Homo sapiens: one gene and its partner. The protein of the gene in region 1 interacts with the protein of each later gene in a biochemical or structural test. Each region holds a gene or a part of one and is shown in the gene's direction. Other genes may lie near its edges.

Region 1 (7,864 bases):
TCAGTTAGCCCCCTTGCCTGGGCTTAGTGCCTGTGAGGACAGGGGACGCTAGTGGTGAGGGCTATAGGTGTCCAAGGTGCTGGTGGGGCTCCTGGGATCCCCTGCTTACCTCCTTGCCTCATTCCCAGCTGATCCTGGTTGAGGACTGGGGTGCAGGCCCAGTGTTTCCTTCTGTTCTTCATGCGGCCATCCTGAGTTTCTCTGCTCACCAGGTTTCTGTTACTCCTCTAAAGCACTCTGGTGCTCTTCCTCAGTTATTTTCATTAAAAGTTAATTGTTGGCCAGGCGCGGTGGCTCACACCTGTAATCCCAGCACTTTGGGAGGCCAAGGCGGGCAGATCATGAGGTCAAGAGATCGAGACCATCCTGGCCAACCTGGTGAAACTGTCTCTACTAAAAATACAAAAAAAAAAAAAAAAAAAAAAAAGGGGGCATGGTGGTAGGTGCCTGTAATCCCAGCTACTTGGGAGGCTGAGGCAGGAGAATTGCTTGAACCCGGGAGGCGGAGGTTGCAGTGAGTTGAGATCACGCCATTGCACTCCAGCCTGGGCAAAAAGAGCAAAACTCTGTCTCAAAAACAAAAACAAAAACAAAAACAAATATTGTTTATTCATTGTTCTGGCTGTCTTAGTGAGGGGAAGGAGGACAAGAGAACTAGGGGGGCCATGGATGGGTGGCCCGCACCTGTAATTCCAGCACTTTGAGAGACCAGGGCAGAAGGATCGCTGGAGGCCAGGAGTTCAAGACCAGCCTGGATAACATTTTGCTCTACAAAAAATTTAAAATAAAAATGGGCCGGGCGCGGTGGCTCATGCCTGTAATCCCAGCACTTTGGGAGGCCGAGGTGGGCGGATCACAAGGTCAGGAGTTCGAGACCAGCCTGGCCAACATAGTGAAACCCCGTCTCTACTAAAAATACAAAAATTAGCTGGACGTGGTGGCACACGCCTATAGTCCTAGCTACTCGGGAGGCTGAGGCAGGAGAATCACTTGAACTCGGGAGGCAGAGGCTGCAGCGAGCCGAGATCGCCCCACTGCACATTAGCCCGGGCGACAGTGAGACTTAGTCTCAAAAAAAAAAAAAATAAAATAAAATAAAAGTAAAAATAAAAACGTAGCTGGGTGTGGTGGCCCGCACCTGTGGTCCCAGCTACTTGGGAGGATGAGGTAAGAGGATTACATTGAGCCTGGGATGCTGAGGCTGCAGAGAGCCAAGATCTCACCACTGCCCTCCAGCCTGGCCAATAGAGGGAGACCCTGTCTCAAAAAATAAAATAAAATAAAATAAAGAAAAAAAGAAAAAGGAAGGAAATTGTGACACATACAGCGATATGGATGAGCCATGAAGACACTGTGCTCAGTGAAATAAGCCAGTCACAAAAAACGAACACCGTGTGATTTCACACATATGAAGTACTTAGAGCAGCCAAAAGCGTAGGGACAGAAAGCAAAACAGAAGTTGCCAGAGACTGACAGGGCGGGAGCAGAGCCTCACTTTAGTTTTGGCACCTGGCTCTGGTTGTGACGCCTGCACCGTCTCCCTGGAGGGGCTGGTCAGAGCTGGGCTCCCACTGACTGATGTGCCAAGATGAGGCCCCCACTGTACCTCTGCTCCCACCCTTCTGCACCACCCACCCAGCTCCCATCCCTCTGCACCACCCACCCAGCTCCCACCCCTCTGCACCACCCGTCCAGCATTCCTCTGACTTTCAGGGATAGCAGGGGCCAGGCACAGGGAGTGGGCAGCGGAGTCCCTCTCAGGAGGAGCCTCCTTCAGGGAGGTGGAGGTGGAAGAGGCCAAGCCCTTGGCCAGCACAGCTCTCAGAGGCAGGAGCTTGGAGGTGCCACAAAGCGGGCTGTGTTCTCGCGCTAGCCCAGCCTAAGGGCACCTTTCCATGTTTTGTTTTGTTTTGTTTTTTGTTTTTTTTTTTTTTTTAAACACGGACTCTCGCCCTCTCACCCAGGCTGGAGTGCAATGGTGCGATCTCGGCTCACCGCAACCTCTGCCTCCCAGGTTCAAATGATTCTCCTGCCTCAGCCTCCAGAGTAGCTGAGATTACAGGTGCCCACCACCATGCCCAGCTATTTTTTGTACTTTTAGTAGAGACAGGATTTCACCATGTTGGCCAGGCTGGTCTCGAACTCCTGAACTTGTGATCCATCCGCCTCGGCTCCCCAAAGTGCTGGGATTACAGGCTTGAGCCATGGCACCCGACCTGTCTTTCCATGTTTTGCTGGCAGTTCAGGGGCCTTCTTTCTAACTCCAGGCTGACAGGGTTTGGCGCCCAGAAGGAGAGTCACTTGGGCCAGGACTCCAGAAGCACCAGCTGAGGTTGAGGGGACTTGGTGGAAGGGATAGTTAGCAGCCTGGCCAGAGGGGCGCCAGGACTCACCCAAATGCACACTGGAGGGGATGTTCAGATGGCACGAGAACGGGGATCACACATGGTCGTTCACACACGTGCACTTGAAGATGCATGCACACACATACACCCAGACACACACACCCGCCCAGCCTCTCCTGCACGCAGGGGGCATGCACACACGAGGACGCTCCTCACCTGCATGCCTGACCTGGGGAAGAAGCCCACCTGGTGGGAGGCACCCTCCTCCCACCCTCCATCTGCCATGGCCCAAGTGCTGGCCCCGAGCCCGTGCCCAGGGAGACTCAACACAGGCCCTTTGTCCCTTGGGATCAGGGCTCCCAAGAGAGGGATTTACTGAGCATTTATTTCCTGCCCCGGGCACGCCCCAGTCCTCATTCTGCCAGGAGAAGGGAACAATGAGGCCTTCTCCTGCCCGCAGAGGTGGCTCCGGGCCGGCTGGCCCTTATGTGTCAGGAGTCGGGTTAGGACCACAAGTCCCTGTCCTCCCTGCCCTCCAGGTGTGGGGCTTGGGAAGACCCCTCTGTGACTCTGCAGCCTGAGGCACAGCAGACAAGAGAGTCTCCATCTGCAGCCCATGCAGCAGCCAGGGCCTCCCTGCAGCCCCCGGGCCAGGCTTGGCCTCTGCGGGAAGCCCCCAGCCTCACTGGAGGCAAGAACCTGAGTCCCTGGCTCAGATCTCCGGGTAGGACTGGCCTGACTGAGACCCTGGGCAAAACCAGGAGCTGACACCTCCTAGGGGCCTCAGCGGATCCCTGGGACTCAGGAACCAGAGGGAACGTCCTGCTGGCTGGGAGAGGGGCAGGATCAGAAGCCCAGGGACCTTTGCCCCAACCCAGCAGGCCAAGGCCAGGCTGTGCATGTGACTTGTCCTTGAGCAGCTGCTGCTGGGGAAGGAGGCCCTGAGGGAAGGCACCGCAGCCTTGTGCTCCTGAAACCCGAAGCTCCCACACACCCGCTGCGCCCTCATTGAGTTCCCGTTGGTACCATGCTCTGTGCTAAGCATTTTATCTGTACTTTCCCCAAAGAAACTTAATACTTTTATTGGAAAACCAGAACGCCTAACCACACATTTTGCCTAATCTTTCATGTAATTAACCTTCCACTAGTGCAAGTGTTGAAAGTAGAATACGCTATTCCCAAGTTTCAAGTTGAGGGAGGCGGGATTCCCAGGTTCTGGTTGTACATTCCCATTTTCACTGATCTGTTCAGTGGTCAATGGATTCTTGGGTTGCTTTCATGTCAGCTACTGTGAATAATCCTGCTATGAACATGGGTATACAAATATCTCTTGAAGGCTGGGTGGGGTGGCTCACACCTTCACCCTGGCACTTTGGGAGGCCGCAGAGGGCAGATCACCTGAGGTCAGAAGTTCAAGACCAGCCTGGCCAACATGGCGAAACCCCATCTCTACTAAAAATACAAAAATTAGCTAAGCATGGTGGCAGGTGCCTCTAATCCCAGCTACTCTGGAGGCTGAGACAGGAGAATCACTTGAACCCAGGAGGCAGATGTTGCAGTGAGCCAAGATCGCACCACTGCACTCCAGCCTGAGCGATGGAGCAAGACTCCATCTCAAAAACAAACAAAACTAAATCCCCCCAAAAAACCAAAAACAAATATCTCTTGAAGACCTTCCTTTCAGTTCTTTTGGGTGTATGCTCAGAAGTGGAATTGCAGCTGGGCGCGGTGGCTCATGCCTGTAATCCCAGCACTTTGAGAGGCCGAGGTGGGCGGATTACCTGAGGTCAGGAGTTGGAGACCAGCCTGGTTAACATGGCGAAACCCCGTCTGTACTAAAAATACAAAAATGAGCCAGGTGTGCTGGCGCGCGCCTGTAACCCCAGCTACTTGGGAGGCTGAGGCAGGAGAATCGCTTGAACCCAGGAGGTGGAGGTTGCAGTGAGCTGGGATCACGCCAATGCACTCCAGCCTGGGCGACAAGAGCGAAACTCCATCTCAAAAAAAAAAAAAATTGTTCCAGAGAAGTGAAGAGAGCCCAGCGGGAGCCCGCAGTGGGGACAGCCTGGGCAGAGACTTGGGGAGATCCCCATTCTGGGTGGAACGGGCCGAGGACCACTGTTTTCCCAAGAAGGTCCCATGAAGGAGCAGCCATGCCTCTAGGCCCCACCCGGCCTTCAGGGGGTCCCCAGGCTTTAAGGGGACTCCTGGCTCAGGGCCAGGCCCTTGGTGCTGGAGGAGGTTGTAGGTGGAGGACGGGGTCACCAAGAGGGCAGCCGGGACCCCTGGGCTGCAGACAAGAAAGGGACTGTGGGGTCCACCGGGTCTGGGCCACATCAAGAAGTGTGGTTGAAGACCCGCCCCTAGGGGCTGAAAGCCAGGGCGCTGCCAGGCATGAGAGGCCCCAAACAGCCCTTGGGCCCAGGAGGGTGAAGCTGGGAGTAGAGGGCAGAGCTCCCACCCCGCCCCGCCCCCAGGGGGCGCCCCGGGCCCGGCGCGAGAGGAGGCAGAGGGGGCGTCAGGCCGCGGGAGAGGAGGCCATGGGCGCGCGCGGGGCGCTGCTGCTGGCGCTGCTGCTGGCTCGGGCTGGACTCAGGAAGCCGGGTGAGCTCGGGGCGCTGCTGGCGGGATGGGGAGGCGGGGGAGCGGTGGGGAGGACGGGAGGTGGAGGCCGCGGGGAGTCACTTCTTGTCTCCCGCAGAGTCGCAGGAGGCGGCGCCGTTATCAGGTAGGGCGCCCAGGACGCGCGATTCCTGCCAGGGCCGTTGGGCCGAGGTGGACGGGGGGCGGTGAGGGGGTAGAGGGGGGCCTTTACTGCTCTCTCGCCCCCGCCCCCGGGATCGAGAACTCTGTTGGCGTGGAAAGTAACTAACGGACGCTGGAGGGGGATGGGCGGGCCCTGCAGAGCACGTGGGAGGATCTCCAGTGTCACCTACTTCCTGCTGCACACACGCGAGGGGACCCTGGGTGGGCAAAAACGTGCTTTCCCGGACGGGGTTGAAGGGGAGAAAGGGAGAGGTCGGGCTTGGGGGGCTGCCTCCCGCGGCTCAGCAGTTCCTCTGACCATCCGAGGACCATGCGGCCGACGGGTCATCACGTCGCGCATCGTGGGTGGAGAGGACGCCGAACTCGGGCGTTGGCCGTGGCAGGGGAGCCTGCGCCTGTGGGATTCCCACGTATGCGGAGTGAGCCTGCTCAGCCACCGCTGGGCACTCACGGCGGCGCACTGCTTTGAAACGTGAGTGGGGGTGCGAACGGAGGGGTGCGGGGACGGGCAGGAACAGGGCTGGAGGGAGTGCCACCGAACTTTACCTCTGGTCTGATGCCAGACTTGGGCGTGAAAGTTGTGCGTGGATGCGGCCTGGTGTTCTCCTGAGCCCCAGGCTGTGCTGCAGCCGGTTACACCCACTCCAGTTCCCTTTGGGTCTCCTGGAGGGAACCCTGTTCAGGTTATTCCAGAATGTTCTTCCAGAACATTTCCACACACTTTTGGGTATTCTCTCCCTTTTTCTTTCAACCCAAAGTTCACCACTGACCATCCCACCCTCATCCCCCCTCCTGGTGGACGGTGCGGTACAGTGTGGGGCACTGAGCCAAGGCCAGCACCCCCGGGCCGCTGTGTGGACTCCATCCTGCCAATCCCACATTGGCGTGGTGCATCTCCCCATTCCTCCTTGGGCTGCATGGGGGTGCCCCTGGAGGCCTTGGCTCAATGCAAGGCTCCTTGGGACAGCTCTGGGAGGTGACAAGACCCCACCCTTCTGCTGCAGGAGCAGGTCCTAGGACTTTGGTTGTGGTCTGTCTGGGCTCCTTCATTTCTGCAGGGGACCCTGGGTGTTAGCAAGTAGCAGCAACACCACAGTTTCCCCTCCTGCACTGGACCCCAGTTGTGCTCAGGTAGCCAGCCCTCCATCCAGGGCCCCTGACTGCTCTCTTCTCTTCTGCCAGCTATAGTGACCTTAGTGATCCCTCCGGGTGGATGGTCCAGTTTGGCCAGCTGACTTCCATGCCATCCTTCTGGAGCCTGCAGGCCTACTACACCCGTTACTTCGTATCGAATATCTATCTGAGCCCTCGCTACCTGGGGAATTCACCCTATGACATTGCCTTGGTGAAGCTGTCTGCACCTGTCACCTACACTAAACACATCCAGCCCATCTGTCTCCAGGCCTCCACATTTGAGTTTGAGAACCGGACAGACTGCTGGGTGACTGGCTGGGGGTACATCAAAGAGGATGAGGGTGAGGCTGGGGACAGGCGGGTCAGGGAGGAACTGTCTTTGTTCACCTGTTCCCCTGCATAGGCACAATAGCCCCCTGCTTGGTCTGGGGGTGCAGGCTATGCCCCTCTTGCTTGCAGTCTCTCCTCACCTGCCAGGGCAGGGACCAAACACCCAGTTCTCTCCCTTCCAGGGGCTGTGGGGGCCAGAAGGAGAGTGTGAGAGGGAGGCCAGTTTGGCGCAGGCCTGTGGGTGGTGCGGTGGTGGAGGGGTTCTGGAGGGCTTGGCGACATAAACCTCATACTTGGATTTATTCCTGCATCTTTCCACCTCCCCCAGTGCTCACCAATGCCCCAGGCATCAGGCTCCTGGGCTGCCTCTCCATGCCTCCCACACCCACCCTAGCTCTGGCCGATTCTCCTGCAGCACTGAGCCCATTCCTCTCCCCAGAAACTTCCAAGCCATGCTCAACCGCAGCTCCCACGGAAACCCCTCTGGGGGTTCCTCTGGTGGGCCTGCCCTGGCACCTGCGTGTCCCCCAACACACATGCCCTGAAAGAAGTGGGCCCAGCATCCGGAGGAGCCCCGGCAGCCCCAGACTGGGCGTGTTCCCTGTATCAGGAATCCCTTCCCTCTGCTCCCCTGTCTGGCCCGTCCCTGCATCATCCCACAACAGTAGTAACAATAACAAACGTGGTTCCTTGAGCACACGCTGTGTGCCTGGCACTGTTCTAGACATGGGGGCCCAGCAGTGAGCCAGGCGCGGCCTCTCCTCCTGCTGGAGCTCACCTAGGAATGAAGTTGGTAACGTTCTTATACCCATCTTACAGATGAGAAAACTGAGAGGGTTATGGAAATTGCCAAGAACTAGTAAATGGAGAAGTCAGGGCCCCTTGCCTTAGAGAGGGTAAGGGATGTCCCCAAGTCACACCCCGGCAGTTGGGAGTGGGGAACTCAGCACTGGAGCCGCCTCCCTCTGGAGGAGGGATCCTTTGCCTTCCCTGAGAAGGACCCTTGCTGCAAACACGAGTGGATATGAGCCAGGGGCACGGCCAGGCTGCCTCTGCCACCCTCTCTCCCCAGCCCAGGGTAGACAGGTCACACCAACCCCAGGCTGTGCCTCAATTCACAGTGCCGGGGAGGCAGGGGACAGGCACTTCTGGAGCCCCCTGCCTGGTGTGCACCTTTGCTGTGCCCTGCGCGGGCTGGGAGGCCTTGGGCAAAGGTGTTCATCTTACAGTGCCTCAGTTTCCTCCCCTGTGAAATAGGGGAATGATGGTGCCACATCAGAGGCTAGTTC
Region 2 (7,463 bases), on another chromosome or scaffold:
GATTGAGTGAGAGCGAGAGCGAGACAGAGAGAGAGAGAGAGAGAGAAAGCGAGAGGCACATGCTAGAACAAAGCTCCTTTCATTTGTTCCTGGGAGTGGCTGGGTGTGTCAAATCATCCCTCAGCCTCGATGCTGAGTAATCAAGTATAATATTTGCAAAGCTTCAACCTATAGGTAAGAAAAAGCACCAACAAAACAGTCTCCTAGGTTATTAAATATTTAGTCCAATGATTACTTGTGTTGAACTAGAGGAAGTTATTGCTTCATACAATTGTATAATGAATGAATGAATAATTCATTCTTTGAGCTATGTATCTCCCCTCCAAAAAATCTACTCTTTTAAATATATAGTCAATAAAATGGTTTTTGTGGCAAATAAAGAGAGGGGAAAACATTATGGATTATTTTTGAAATTATAGAGCAAATGCTTTTTCCTACAAACAGGTGTATTCTTTGTCACTAAATTTTTTTAAATAAATCATTTATTTGGTTGGGTGCGGTGGCTTACGCCTGTAATCCCAGCACTTTGGGAGTCTGAGGCAGGTGGGTCACAAGGTCAGGAGATCAAGATCATCCTGGCTAACAAGGTGAAACCCCGTCTCTACTAAAAAATAAAATAAAAAAAAAATTAGCTGGGCATGGTGGCGGGCGCCTGTAGTCCCAGCTACTTGGGAGGCTGAGGCAGGAGAATGGCATGAACCCAGGAGGTGGAGCTTGCAGTGAGCCGAGATCGTGCCACTGCACTCCAGCCTGGGCGACAGAGCGAGACTCCGTCTCAAAAAAAAAAAAAAAAAAAAAAAAAAAAAAAAAAAAAAAAGAATCATTTATTTTACAAATGTAAAGTGTTTGGGATGAATCAGATGTACTGGTCTTCATATACAAAGAGAACTGGAGGAAAGGTAGCTGGTATTTAAGGAAATGTCAAACTGACTTCAAATTTTGGGTTGAATTCATCCTTAGTTGAATTCCTGTCGGGTAGGGTTATTTCCCACTCATTCATTCTCTACCCACTATGTGCTAAGTACCCACTATGTGCCAGATACTATTCTAAGTTCTTGGACTACATCAGTGAAAAAAACAGACCAAAAAAATCTGCTTAGATTTCAGCTGAAGGAGGCCATCAACAGTAAACATAATAAGTGAATTGTATAGTATATCATATAGAAAACTATAAAATCTGGCCTTATATCTGCTTCTTATAGGTTCAAAGTTCATCAAGAAGAAGGGAGATCAAAAATACTCTGGAGTTGACTATTCATGGGCCCACATAAAAAGCTTTTCATGAGGCAAGAGACTGAAGATTATAACAGGATAATAACACCATATTGTTATTTTTATGTTGTTGCTCTCTGAGTTATTAGTATGAGTAGAACCTTTTTTCTTATAAGTCTGATGCTTCTAAGTCCACTTGTTAACATAATTGACATGACAACTTTGTTCTTTCCAGGCATTTCCTTCAGGATGTATGTTTTTTTTTTTTTTTTTTTTTTTTTTTTACAGTATAACAATTAGTGTAGGTATCTGACTTATAGAAATGCAAAGCTAAACTGTAGTCGGCTTGAGATCCATAGTTAGGTCTTATTCTGGGTCTTGCCCAGGGTCTGACACACTCAAAAAATGCTTATTCAGTCAATCACAGACTCCAATCAAAATGTCCAGTTAAAACAGGGAAGCAGAGTAGAAACCTATTGAATGCAGAAGACTTTATTGAGGCCACTCTTTCCTAAAATTAATCAGCAGGCATGTTCTCCAGAAACTAGTTTGAAATTCTGTAATTTAAAAAATGTGAACTGCTTGTATAACTCCATCCTCTCCCACTTTTCTGTTTTCTAGTGTCTTTTTAGGTAGAATTCTAAAGAACTTAAAATTTTGGCTGCCGTGGAAAAGAATATTACTGGGAAATGGGTCTTCTCAGTCAAATAGAATCACAGTTTTAATACTCTTTCCACTGAATGGGAACCACTTTTTTTTTTCCTGCAATTTTGCCTAAATCAACAGTGTGTTTTGTCAATGATGTTACACCTGAGACTTGTGAGTCCTTGCCTTACTTGGGTTCAATGAGAGGGTGAGAACATTCACGTACAGGGTCTGACCTCCAGAGATACTTCAACAAGTGAAAGCTTTTGACAGGAAATGTTCTGTTTAATCTTTTGTTAACATATCTGTCCAATATACCTTGTATCATCCCAGCTCTGGACCTCCGTTCTCAGGCTTAAATGGTCTCCTGATGTCCAATGATGCTGCCTCCATGATCCTTCCCCAGTCATAGCCAGACTGAAAAGGTCACACCCATCTCTGAACTACTTTTGTCATTTGCACCTCTCTTAAGTCCCTTATTACATGCCTCCAGATACTTTCTTTTGTTTCTTGTCTTCCTACTGTACCCTTTGGGGAGAGGGAACATGTCTTATAGCCCCAGTCGAATGGTGCCTCTAATTTTCACCCAGTTAGAATCACCCAAAGGCATTTCACTTTGCTAGAACTTCCTTGGGTATTGTTGAATTCCTGTCATTGGAAATGTTTCTGCCCCGGTTGAGCAAGCACTGAACAGGAGTGTTTTAGAGGGAATTAAAACTTCAAAAAGGAGAATAGAGAGGCTCTACCATTTAAATGCAAGTCGCTTGAAATCTGTAGACCACAGTAGCAAGCACGAAGCAGGTATTCAATAAATGTGGTGAATTCAATGTCAATAACATGCTCCAGTCTTTTGTCCACTATTCCCCGAGCCTACCTAACCAATGGGCAAAGTGGTACTAATTGCCATCATTAGGAAGCACATGCTATGTGTCAGAAAGTATGTAAGAATTGTCTCTTCATCCATCTCTGTCTATATCTCATTTTATCGATCTTATTGACAAATGAGAACTATATATAGATCTCATTTTACAGATGAGGAATCTGAAGATAAAGGGATTAAGCAATTTGCTCAGGATTTCTCAAGCAATGAGTGGTTAGACTTAGTTTGCAAATTTATGACTCTGCTCCCAAATTCTCATTTTCCCTCCTACAGCTGGATAATAGAATTTTTAAGAAGCATCCTTCCACACCTCCTCACCTATGACCTTCCCTCCACTTGCTCCACTGATGCCTAAAATTCTGTTTTTGGAGTTCACTTAGTTTATGACTTTGATTCTGGTTAACATTAAAATACCCAGGACATGGGGGAGGGGAAGCTGTTATCAATCTTAGTTTAGTCAGTTAATATAGCGAGTTGCTCTTATTCATTACTCAACAAGCACTTATTGACTGCATACTGTACATCAGGTCTGTACCAAGCTTTGGTGTTATAAAAATGAATGAAGTTTGGCACTTACCTTTAACATTGTTGTAGTCACATATAGGAGAATGTAAGAGATTATTATGAAACAATGTAGTAAATGTACAATAGGGAATTCTAGATAAGCACAGCAGAGAAGCAACCAGCTCCGTTTCAGGTCCTTTCCTGAGACTGATTCGGCTGGAAGGGAGTAGGTCCCGCCAAATGAAGAAGCTGTGGGAAGACAGGAGGACAAGAACAGGCTCCACGAAGAGATTTCAGAGCAGAGCTGCGTACTCCTTTTTCTTTTTGTTTCTTTTGCTCTGTCACCCAGGCTGAAGTACAGTGGTTAGCTCACGGCTCACTGCAGCTTTGACCTCCCAGGCTCAAGTGATCCTCTCGTCTCAGCTTTCCAAGTAACTGGGACCACAGGCATGCATCACCACACTAGGCTATTGTTTTACATTTTTTGTAGAGATGGGGTCTCACCATGTTGCCCAGGTTGGTCTCAAACTCCTGGGCTCAAGCAATCCGCTCACGTCAACCTCCCCAAATGCTGGGATTACAGGCGTGAGCCACCGCGCCAGGCCTGAGTAATCCTAATCACAGGATTTTAAAAAGAAACTTCCTGCGCCACCCATTAAACAATATCTCCTACCAATTTGGTAGTAAATATTTTGCTAATAGTACCTAATTTTTAGGTAGGCACTGTGTTTATACATATATCCATTCCTTCTTTTTTGATTGTCTTTCTGTTTAATGGGCAGCTACCTCTCTTGGCATCTAGCAGAATGAGCTGCTGCAGTTTACACAAAAAGAATGGAGATCAGAGTACTTTTTGTGCCACCAACGTGTCTGAGAAATTTGTAGTGTTACTATCATCACACATTACTTTTATTTCATCGAATATTTCACCTTCCGGTCCTGCGTGGGCCGAGAGGATTGCCGTACGCATGTCTGTACGTATGCATGTAACTCACAGCCCCTTCCTGCCCGAACATGTTGGAGGCCTTTTGGAAGCTGTGCAGACAACAGTAACTTCAGCCTGAATCATTTCTTTCAATTGTGGACAAGCTGCCAAGAGGCTTGAGTAGGAGAGGAGTGCCGCCGAGGCGGGGCGGGGCGGGGCGTGGAGCTGGGCTGGCAGTGGGCGTGGCGGTGCTGCCCAGGTGAGCCACCGCTGCTTCTGCCCAGACACGGTCGCCTCCACATCCAGGTCTTTGTGCTCCTCGCTTGCCTGTTCCTTTTCCACGCATTTTCCAGGATAACTGTGACTCCAGGTAAGCAAGGTGGGGTAGCAGGGCTGGTGACTTCCTTTTTTCAGGGAAATTCATAAATATCGTTATTTGAGCTGATTTGAGATGGTGAACAAAATGGACTTAGGTCCATTTTGGGGCTGTTTTCAAAGACGGGCTGTTGGGTTGAGTACTGTCGCCTCTCATCCCCCATGTTGGCAGTATTTCCAGCTCCCAACCCTTTGAGCACCAGGAACACTGCAGAGGGAGTAAAATCACTTAACCATACAAGGTAAGAATATGAAGAAGTCACGTGGCTCGGAGGTTTTGGTGGTAGAGGGGTGCAACCGTGATTCACGGAGGAGAAAATACTTCTGAGGACATTTTCAGGCCTACTTTGGAACTCAGAATGAATTTTGCAATGCTAGTTTCAGAAAGGGTGTGGTACCCGCAAACTGGGGAAAGTTGAGAAGTATTGGTGGGTCTGGCTGGCTCTTCTCCCTGGCTGACGTTGTAAGGCTGAGATTTAGGCATATGGACTGCCCTTCTTTTTGGCATTTTTAAGCATCAGATCGCTGTTCATCTACTTGCAACTGCATTCTTCTAAGCGGAAATTATTCTCCCTTCAGTTTTCTGGGTTTCAGCATAACTTTAAACAAGTTACACATTTCAGATGCATATTCTTGGACTTATAAATTGTAATAGCTGCTTGTAGTTTCTTACTCATATGCTGTACACTTTTTCTTATGGCTTCATTTAAGCATATCATACTAAAAACCAACATGCCAGGCTATTCCAGAGACTTGTAACCAGATCCTCAGAGCTGGGGGCTCTTAGACATATTTCAGCCCAGCCCCCTCATTCTGTAGATGAGGAGCAGAACTCACAGAGGTGATCTGGTGTCCAAAGGCACACAGCTTGTAAGTAGCACCGCTGAGATCAAATCAGGCCTTCACACTTGCAGCTCGGGATGTTTCCACAACACCGTGGGTTCTGTTACCATCTTTTTCATCCCCTACATCTCCCGGGAGGTTTTCGATAATGGGTTCCAAACCTCAGTCCCTGTCAGTTAGTGTAAGTGTTCGATGAGTTCCTTCATGGGTGGAGATGAAGCCTGTCTGAGGAAAGGAGTCTCCAAAGGAAATGAGTCAGCAGGTTTATATCTTTGCTTCCTAACGCCTTGAATTGTGCCACTTCAATCCCTCTGGGTTGTGGATTGACTTTGGGGCTATGCAGTCTCAGCGATTTGGGCCATTCTGGTGTGGCTGAGTCTGGCTGTAAGTTTACTGCTTGGCAACAGTGGGCTGGGTCAGTGGTCAAGATCAGGCTTCTAAAGAGACAGGAGCAGCTATGATGCTTCAGAGCAAAGCAGACGCCCCCCTGCCATGGGAAATTAAAGCAATTACTAATAGCTGTATTGTACTTTCTTGCCCACAAAGCACTTTTCATATACATTGATTCACTTAATCACTTCGTTTAGTCCTCATAGTCTTTCACATTGCAGAAACTTCAAAATATCCTATTTTCTTAATCCTGCACATCCTTTGCTCCTCAAAGACTTAGAATGTGGACAACAGAGGTTGTGTTTTTTGGCATTCCATTACTGATATTATAATAGGCAAGGTTTCTCATGGCATTCCCTAAGGACTGGTTATACCAAATACTTGAGAGATGTTTTTCACCATGTCTTTCCATCTTTAAAATGAGGCAGGCCAGGCTAAATGATATCTACGATACTCTGACACAGTAAAAACGTAGTTTTTTTTTTTTTTTTCTTGAGATGGAGTCTTGCTTTGTCACCCAGGATGGAGTGCAGTGGCACGATCTTGGCTCACCGCAACCTCACCCTCCCAGGTTCAAGTGATTTTTCTGTCTCAGCCTCCCAAGTAGCTGGGATGACAGGCACGTGCCACCACGCCCGGCTAATTTCTATATTTTTGGTAGACACAGGGTTTCACCATGTTGGCCAGGCTGGTCTCGAACTCCTGACCTCAAGTGATCTGCCCGCCTTGGCCTCCCAAAGTGCTGGGATTACAGGTGTGAGCCACTGTACCCGGCCAAAAGTTAAGGTTTTAAGGGATGAAAAAACTATACTCATAGCTCTGTTTAAATATGCACGCCCGTGATGTGTGGGTGAAGAGTGTGGTTGATGGTCTATAAGTAAAATGAACATATATTGTTCAAATCAGGATATGTTTGAGAGTAAACGGGGCACTGTTATCAATGTCAAGACAACAGACATAAACCAGGATTGTCCCAGGCAAAGTGGGATGTATATATCCTACCCACAGGACTTTTTTCTCACCTAAATGGTCTAAAGACAAAAAATGTGAGGACCATTGGCTCAGATGCATAAAAAACTTAGGAAATCTTCATACAAAGACCAGTGACAAGCTATAAGTCTAGAGAAGTGAGCACGGCCCTACCCCCAGCCCAGTACATGCGTCTCCATTCACTGGGGCCTCTCTGAATTGAGTCAGTTCTCCCTGTCCCACGTTTTTGCAAGGCTAACTCCTACTTATCCTGTAGGACTCACCTTTAATGTGACTTACTCAGTTGTCACTGTCTCTGAGGAGGTGTCACTGAGGTTTCTAGTATGGGGGGTCTGTCACTCCTGGGGATCCCATAGTGACTTGGGTGCTCATCAAAACACTTAAAACAGTCATCATACCACTAACTGACAGCTCCTTGGAGGCAGGGGCTATGTCGTTTTCACCTTTTCTTAATGCTTACCCTGACACAAATTAGGTACTCAGTTAATACTTACTAGATGAAAGCAACATCATACCAAGAGTTTACAACATAAGTGGCAGAAAGGGAACAAGGGCTTCTTCAAGTAGGAAAATCATAGGGAAGAAGTTTTGTGTCGATTGAACAAACCATGCAGGATATGTTGATATCTTCAAGGGGAGACTTCAGGACATGCAGGATTTTTGGAACTCGAGAGACTTCTGAGAGAACAAATGCCAGCA

What was found. Proteins that work in one complex are often made in the same cells at the same time.
Region 2: the proteins of PRSS21 (region 1) and SERPINB5 form a complex in vitro, tested with the Homo sapiens proteins (one study listed by IntAct).

Annotation. Positions count from the first base shown.
Region 1 is NC_000016.10:2,812,384-2,820,247, forward strand, and holds the start of PRSS21 (testisin isoform 1 preproprotein), read left to right. Parts: upstream 1-4,853; 5' UTR 4,854-4,885; coding exon 4,886-4,949; intron 4,950-5,046; coding exon 5,047-5,073; intron 5,074-5,417; coding exon 5,418-5,583; intron 5,584-6,293; coding exon 6,294-6,586; intron 6,587-7,864. UniProt on the Homo sapiens protein: Could regulate proteolytic events associated with testicular germ cell maturation.
Region 2 is NC_000018.10:63,472,510-63,479,972, forward strand, and holds the start of SERPINB5 (serpin B5), read left to right. Parts: upstream 1-4,448; 5' UTR 4,449-4,536; intron 4,537-7,463. UniProt on the Homo sapiens protein: Tumor suppressor. It blocks the growth, invasion, and metastatic properties of mammary tumors.